Linked DNA regions of Homo sapiens. The protein of the gene in region 2 interacts with the protein of the main gene of each other region in a biochemical or structural test. Each region holds a gene or a part of one and is shown on either strand. Other genes may lie near its edges. The genes, in order: SLC8A1 and S100Z.

What was found.
Region 1: the proteins of S100Z (region 2) and SLC8A1 interact in a biophysical measurement, tested with the Homo sapiens proteins (one large-scale study listed by IntAct).

The regions. Positions count from the first base shown.
Region 1 is NC_000002.12:40,102,562-40,106,377, forward strand, and holds part of SLC8A1 (sodium/calcium exchanger 1 isoform A precursor), read right to left. Parts: 3' UTR 1-3,816. UniProt on the Homo sapiens protein: Mediates the exchange of one Ca(2+) ion against three to four Na(+) ions across the cell membrane, and thereby contributes to the regulation of cytoplasmic Ca(2+) levels and Ca(2+)-dependent cellular processes.
Region 2 is NC_000005.10:76,848,563-76,853,063, forward strand, and holds the start of S100Z (protein S100-Z), read left to right. Parts: upstream 1-1,451; 5' UTR 1,452-1,593; intron 1,594-4,501.

The DNA.
Region 1 (3,816 bases), on a different chromosome or scaffold from region 2:
GAGGCGGGATTGGTGCAAGAAGTTGAGGAAGACGAGATGAGCGTGTGTGAATGAGCAGCTGTCTGTGAGGAAGAAAGGCTAAATCTATTCACAGGTTCTCTTCCTTAAACAAGCACCTGCCACTGATTGACAGCTCTACCAAGATTGCTTAAGGCAGACATCCGCTGAAAATGCTTATGGTGCATACTTGTTTTTAAAAAGATGGAAAAACCTGCCTTCTCAATTTAGTATTTCCTAATCAAATCTGAAATGGGGGGCAAATTCAACGTGAGGGATTTATTAAAATATGAAAATACAGTCCTTACTGCATTAAAATAGCTCTATATAGAAATTTATAATGAGAGAAGGAAAAGTAATTTTATCCCTTGGCAGAAGTCTTAGTAATCACTGGAATTATAACAGAAATATTAGCTATTTTAATTTTCTTTCTCAATATTGAGTCTCACAAGATCATTTTATCGGTTGCAATGTCAGTAATTTTTGCTTACCTTTCCCCCTGACAAATTTAGCTTTGTGCCTCAGTGGTAATAAAGTTGGAATATATTACTGCTATGAAGCTGAAATAGTTTTGCCGTTTCCAATGACATTCTAACTGGGATTCCTTCAAGAGAAAGCTTACATTTATTCCACTAAAACATTCTTTGTTTATGCAAGCAGAGTTCACTATGGTTGCTTTTTCTTTCTTCTTTTCTTCCACCCCATGGAAATGTCTACATTCTTTTGCTATGTTTCGTCTGTTGTGCAATTTCATTTTGCTAATGAGGCATCTGAGCTGTGGCCGACCGGTTGATTGCTAAGGGTGAGATTTAAGTCTTTTGTGAAATCCTTTTGAGTAGTCATTTACTCCATGACAAGGGAGGCATTTAAAAGACAGTTGAATCTGTAGCAGATGAATTTTTTCTCATCTTCCTTTAGAATAATTACACCTTTAAATATCTTTCTGCCTGGTCATTGCACATCCTGTTTGTAATTCACATACTTTAGTAAAAAATAACTGGTTAGTTTTTTTTCCTAAAAGATTAAGCACACTGACTAAAAAATAAAAGTAGAATTACTATAAGAAACTGTATGAACTTAAAGTTTTCATTTAAAATAGTGGTTTCAGCCTTAAAAAGGTCACTGATTTGGAATCCATTCCAATCTCATTACATTTTCTACTGTACACTTCTTGAAAAGGGAGAAATTACTCATTCCTCTCAGGGAAGGGAGACTGTTTTTCCAACCGTGCACATGGAATTATTTCAAAATAAATGTTTATATTTCTATCAAACTTCATGTGGTTACATGGGCTTGACAAGTGCATTGGTGACCCAATATGGGCAGCAGCTGGCTCACAACTTAAAGTACCTTCAACCCATACACATAAGTGGATGATAACAGGGAAACACTGACCATACGGGGCTTGATGTGTTCTGGAAAATCAAGCTAAAGGTAAAGTCTTCCCATTTAATGATGAGGACAATCAAGTCCAGAGAGAGCTGAAGATTCCTCACCCTCTGAAACAATTAAAGATTCCTTTTCCAAAGAGAAAAGCCTTTGGGTCTTCTCTCTGGTGACTTTTTGATGTTAAAATGAAGAGAACACTGTGTCCTCAGAGATGAAGAGTGAGATGTTCTCTAGTTTGCTGTTAAAAGATGAGAGCTGGAGTTGTAACTCACTGAAATAGAACCACATGCCTCAAAGTCCAAAAGAGCAACAGGCAGAGTTAAGAAAATCCAGTGATGAATTAGCATCAACACCTAGTAAAAGAATTCAGCAATGGTGAGGCAAATGATCTTTGTAATAAGATTTTCCCAACTTGAAATGTTGAATAAAAGACCCTATATCAAACTTACACAGGTCTTGGCTCATGGTAATCTCTGGATGTGTGTGTTGGGTCTGAATCCATTTATCTTATTAGTGGAAGACAGAATGTGAAATTAAGAAAATTAATATTTCTATTTCTGTTAGAGGAAAGTTTCTTGATAGGTTTCAAAATGGCCCCATTAAGCAATCTCAAATTGATAAAATGTAGACCAAAATGGAAGGTTAATTTAATTAGAATGCCATAAGTGGACTCTTCCTGACTAAATCAAAGACTAGTGTTAATTTTCTTAAATTACTCTGTTTTGAATTCTTTATATACCATTTAGGGTACCTAATATAATACTTTGCACAAAATAAATGCTTGATTTATGAAATTGTACATCTGAAGAAATATAAAAGGCTCTAACTTTTGATTTTAAAATTGTTTCACTCTCTTGACTGTATAGTTTATGAGCCTATGATCCTGGAAAACACGCTTGCTAAACTGACCAATTTTTTGCTTTTTTTTTGGTTTGATTTCTTTTTTATTCTTTTTCCTTAGGTAATTATCCAGTTGATATTTATCTTGTTCCAGTCACCTTTAGAAAGCTGTTTGGTGAGTACAATGTTAATATAGAGACAATCAGAATGGTGTGTGCTTTTGTACAAAACTTGTGGATCCATCAATGAGGCATCTGCCATTTTTTCTTTCTTCCCCTCTATATTACAAGTTCTGGAATGCCTGTTCTAATTCTCCAAGGAGAATTAGAAAATAAAAGGCAGAGTCTAGAGCCATGTCAATATCCTCCCACAGAATGTGTATGGAGAATATTCCACTGGGAACCATGATAGATAAAAACTTACCAGGAAGAGCAAAACATCAAGAGAGTCTGACAAAAGCTCTGCCCTCCTCTGTAACCCAGCAGCCTCTGCAGAATCATCCTTTCTTCATTGTTTTAAAATGTTGTTAAATACCTTGTCAGTTGCTTTAAAGGGACCCAGACCCATTCTGATATTTTTACAAAATAAATCCAGTCTTTGGGTAAAGGTATAGTAATACTATCCATGGATCTGATGTTGAGTCGTGGAGGCTTCAAGCTCTGAAGAAGTATGAACTAATTCTAAACAGTGATTAAGCAATTATTATTTTCATTTTACTAATGACATGACTTCTAGAGTTGGAGTGTCAGAATATTCTCTTGGAAGAAAAGGATGCAAGTGTAGACACCTCATCACTAGGTCCAATCCACCTCACAGTGCTACTTTCAGTTTTGTAAAAATTGGTCACGGCAACAAGTTTGAAATAATAGGTTCACTCTCAAACTGGCAACAAGCACGTGATTGAGCTGCATGAATCTGGAAAGGCTTGTCAAACAAAACAGGCTGGTTCACAGCTGAAAGAAAAAAAATACTTCTGGCATTGTACTAAATTCAGAAACCGTATCCGACAAGGGGCTGAGCTGAGGTTGTGGTATGGCCCCAGTCCTAGGATTGGTCCCACCTACTTTGCCTAGTTCCTGACCACATCTGGTAATTCAGTGGTGATGTGATTATGACATTAACAGTGATAGGTTTCCCCTGCTTAGCTGCTTATTTGATTGTGGATAATGTGTGAATGGGGGCAGGAGAGGCAGTGGTTGGGCGCTGATGTGTTAATGAATCCCATGTCTCAATAATTAACACATCTTCTGGATAGCTTTGCAAAAATGCAATCTTTGCTTCAGATTTCACATTTAAGAGCATCTCCCTTTGCTTTGTGTTTAAAGTTTAAACATTCAGTCCAAATTTTAAAGGTGATAAGCAAATTTAGTGTATTTTGAAGGAAGGAAAACTTTTTTCCTTTTCACTTTTCTCTCACCATGTACAGTTGTTTCTGAAGAATGTGTCTAGGGATTGAGTCAGAACTATCAGGCTGGGCAAAGTGGCTCATGCCTGTAATACCAGCACTTTGGGAAGCCAGGGCAGGCGGATCACCTGAGGTCAGGAGTTCGAGACCAACCTGGAAAGAGCTCCTAGAAGAGTCACTGGTAG
Region 2 (4,501 bases):
AACCCCATCTCTACAAAAAAATACAAGTATTAGCCAGGTTGTGGTGGCATACCCTGCAGTCCTAGCTATTTGGGAGGCTGAAGTGGGAGGATCACTTGAGCCTGGGAGGTTGAGGTTGCAGAGAGCTGTGATTGTGTCTCTGTACTCTACCCTAGGCAATGGAGCAAGACTCTGTCTCCAAAAAAAAAAAAAAAAAATTTATCTTTGAATTCTTTCTTTCAATATATTGTTATCTGTATTTCTGTACTGAGTGCTGTGCTTCTTGACCTGTCTCTGCCCTTTTCTGTGTATTTATTTATTTAATTGACAAGTAAAAATTGTATATATTATGGTATACAAATACAGCTTGATGTTTTAATTTATGTATACATTGTGGAATTATTAAGTCAAGCTATTTGACTTAATTGCCCCATATACTTGTCATTTTTTGGGGGTGATAAAGACACTTAACATCTACTGTCTTAGCAATTTTCGATACACGATATATTGTTATTAACTATAGATAGCATGCTGTACAATGGGAGCTCTTAAACTTATTCCTCCTGGGCCAGGCGCAGTGTCTCACGCCTATAATCCCAGCACATTGGGAGGCCAAGGTGGGCGGATCACTTGAGGTCAGGAATTCAAGACCAGCCTCACCAACATGGTGAAACCCCATCTCTACTGAAAATACAAAAATTAGCCAGGCTTAGTGGTGGGCGCTTGTAATCTCAGCTACTTGGGAGGCTGAGGCAGAAGCTTGAACCAGGGAGGTGGAGGTTGCAGTGAGCTGAGATGATGCCACTGCACTCCAGCCTGGGTGACAGAGCAAGACTCTGTCTCAAAAAAAAAAAAGAAAAAAAGAAATGCTGTGAGGAATTATTAGCCATGAAGCTTCAGCAGGCAGGTTAGGTAGCTTTTCCAGTCACATACTGGTGAAGTAAGGATTTGAACCCCAAGACTCTGGTGCCAGAGTAATTGCTCTTCACCATGAGGAGGCACCAGTGGGGGAGTGTTGGATCACAAGCAGTTTCTTTTTCTTTTTTTTTTGTTTTTTTGAGACGGAATCTGGCTCTGTCACCTAGTCTGGAGGGCAGCGGCGAGCTCAGCTCACTACAACCTCTGCCTCTCAGGTTCAAGCGTTCTCCTGCTTCAGCCTCACGAGTAGCTGGAATTACAGGCGCCCGCCACCATGCCTGGCTAATTTTTATATTTTTAGTAGAGATGGGGTTTCGCCACGTTGACCAGGCTGGTCTCAAACTCCTGACCGCAAGTGATCCACCCACCTCAGCCTCTCAAAGTGCTGGGATTAGAGGCATGAGCCACTGCACCCAGCGCAATTTCGTTAGAGACTTGGTGCCTTCCCATTTCTTTTACTCAGCAATATACCAGCTTTAGGTCCTAAATTAAACCTCTTCCTGCTTTCCCACCTGATGAAGAAACGTGCCTGCAGTGTGGTGAGTCTGGACCACGCAGACTCAGAACAGCACTACTCACAGCAGGGCCTCTTGCTCGCTCTAGCTGCTGGGAGGAAAACGGCTTGCTAATCTCCACGCCCAGAAATTCAGACAAGAGCATTCTCCTTATCTCATCTGCACAGGAAGCAGGTCTAAGGTAAAAGATTATTTTTGTGGAAGATTCTTGCTTTTCAGTCTAGTGGTTGAAGTGTGAGCCTGGCAGGCGTTGGATTAGAGAGGGCAACAAGAGTGGAGGTTGTGAGGTGGGGGGTTGCCTTGGGGCTTCCACTCTAAAATGTGGCCTTACCTTGGCCACAAAGGGGTCGGGGGGGTGGGGGAGAGAGAGAGAGAGAGAGAGAGGGAGAGAGCAGCCTGATCATAGCTCGGAGCGTAGAGGTTCTGGTAAGTTCCTTGCCCTAAAGAACACTTAGTTCATTCTGGCTCCTTTCCTGGTGACCATCCTGGCTTCCTGCTTGGCCTTCACCTCACCTTGAGAAATTCAAGTTTCATGTTCTTGTCCAGGCCAAAGACCCAGAAGAACCTTCAAGGTGAGGCTTGGCCCCTTAGATCCACGCCGTGATTTCGCTTCTTTTTCCTGAAGCCTGCACAGATGCCAGTGTAAGCCCACTCCCAGGAAGTCACAGCAGTGGTCTATGCTCCTCCTCTTCACACTGGCCAGTGCTGGGCATGCCTGGACAATCAGCCCTGGAATGGCTGCTCTCAGCCTACAGAAGAAGAGAGGGAAGAGGGATGGAGGGGCTGGGGAGAAGTTGGTGAGAGGACACAAAATTTGGGTTAGACAGAGAAATAAAGTTTTTTTTGTTTTTTGTTTTTTTCTGAGATGGAGTTTCACTCTGTCACCCAGGCTGGAGTGCAGTGGTGTGATCTCAGCTCACTGCAACCTCCACCTCCCACTTGGCTTCCCAAAGTGCTGCGATTACAGGCATGAGCCACCGCTCCCCAGCCTCCTCATGGGATTTTTGAGGATGACATAAAGGAATACATTTAAACTGCCTAGAAGGGTGCTTGGCCCAGAGTATGTGCTAATTAACGTTGGCTACTATTATTTTCCTTCAACCCAGTGCCGGTGCAGGTCTAGAGGAAAGCATGAGGTGATACAGGGGCACCCAGAGGCGGAGTGCTCCCAGGAGCTGAGGGGCATCGGAGGCTTCCCTGGAGGACTGGCACCTGAGCAGAGGAATGGGCAGCACAGTGGCAGTGCCACGTGTGCGGCACAGATGGTGCAGAGGGGATGGGTGGGCACACTGCGGGGAGTTTAGATTTAGCCAGGGGATGGCAGGGCCTGTCCAGGAGGTTAAGTGAGGAGCTCAGGTGTGCCTCCCAGCAGGCAGGGGAGGCTAATTTTGAAGAAGAGCAAAGTAGGTGCAGGAGGTGAGTTGGGATCTCATGCAGTAATTCAGGCCAGAAGTGACAAGGGCCTGAACTATGGCGCTAGGGTTGAGGAGGAAGGAACAGAGAGTGAGGAGATACAACCTGGCAACTGATTGCATGAGAGAGAGAGAGGGGCCAGGAATAGCATCATACTCAGGTTTCTGGCCATGCAGTTGGGTGAATGAGGGTATTGCTGTTGACTGGAGCAGCAAAAAAAGGGGATCCCCTCTGGGGTAGAGGAAGAAGGGAGCAGGGGATTGGAAAATGCCAAAATCAGTTTGCTGTGGTTTGGAATCTGAGACTCTGATGTGTTACCTAAGTGGAGATGTCCTGTGGTCAGTTTATTTATACTCTCCTGGGTCCTAGGTAGGATTTAAGGTGACATATGAAGATAACACAAAGTAGAGTAAGATATTATAAATTAAGTAGGAGAGAAAGCAGACAGAAAAGAACGAGATGTAAAGTAGAGGAAGGAATGAGGTTAAATATAAAGTACACAGCAGAAAGCAGAAGTCACAAGCTGGCCAGCATTCGCTGAATTTCCTGTTTGAGTTGTCCTGCAGTCTTATGTTTGTCTGTTGGGTTTTGGTGGGTTTTGTTTGTTTGTCTTGAGTTGCAGTCTTAAAATCCAGGAATTCTTAAAAATTAAAATTTCTCACTTTTTCTTTTAAAAAAAAAAAAAGTGAAGTTCTGGGAGCTCTGAGCCATATCCCATCTGGCAACGATGATCTGGGTCTGAGAAGCAGTCTCGCCTTCTTGGGAGAGCACGGGCTCTCCAATTTCCCACTGGCCTCCACTCCACTTGGCTGTCTGGCACTGAAGCAGTGTCGGTCCTCTTATCAGCATGGACTATTTCTCTGAACTCACCCTTCTATCAAATGTAATAAAAAAAATTAGTCAAGATATTTTTTTTTTCTTAGTCTCAATTTTGCCTGTTTACACTAGCAGCCTGGCCGTGGAAGCAGGCTGATGCTCCCTGTTCACAACTGCTTTTCATTCTGCTTAGTGCCTCTGTTGTATCTGTTGTTAAATAGTTTGGGCTGGGTGTAATGGCTCACACCTGTAACCCCAGTACTTTGGGAAGCTGAGGTGGGTGGATTGCTTGAGGCCAAAGTTTGAGAATAGCCTGGCCAACATGGTGAAAACCCATCTCTACTAAAATACAAAAAAATAGCCAGGAATGGTGGTGCACACCTGTAATCCCAGCTACTCAGGAGGCTAAGGCACAAGAATTGCTTAAACCCAGGAGGCGGAGGTTGCAGTGAGCTGAGATCCCGCTACTGCACTGCACTCCAGCCTGGGTGACAGAGTGAGACTCTGTCTCAAAAAACAAACAAACAAACAAAAAACAGCAAAGTTTGAACATGACCCGGCTGTAGGTATTTGAGTTTGCAGCATGTGGTAAAATCAAGTATTCGGCCTAGGTGGCTCATGAACTTGATTCTAGGCTTTCTAGCAGCCAAAGAAAAAGAGGATACATTATCTGTCTTATCCTATCTTATCAGCTGGGCTATTCATAGTATCCATGGGATGACTGCTTAGGCAAGTCAGGACTCTTCTCAACACAAGAACCAGAGCAACATTTTTCCCCTGAGAGTCTTCATAGAGAGGGAATGAAAAGTTCAAACAACATTCATCCCAGAGTCGATTCAAGTCTAAGGCTGATGATTCTA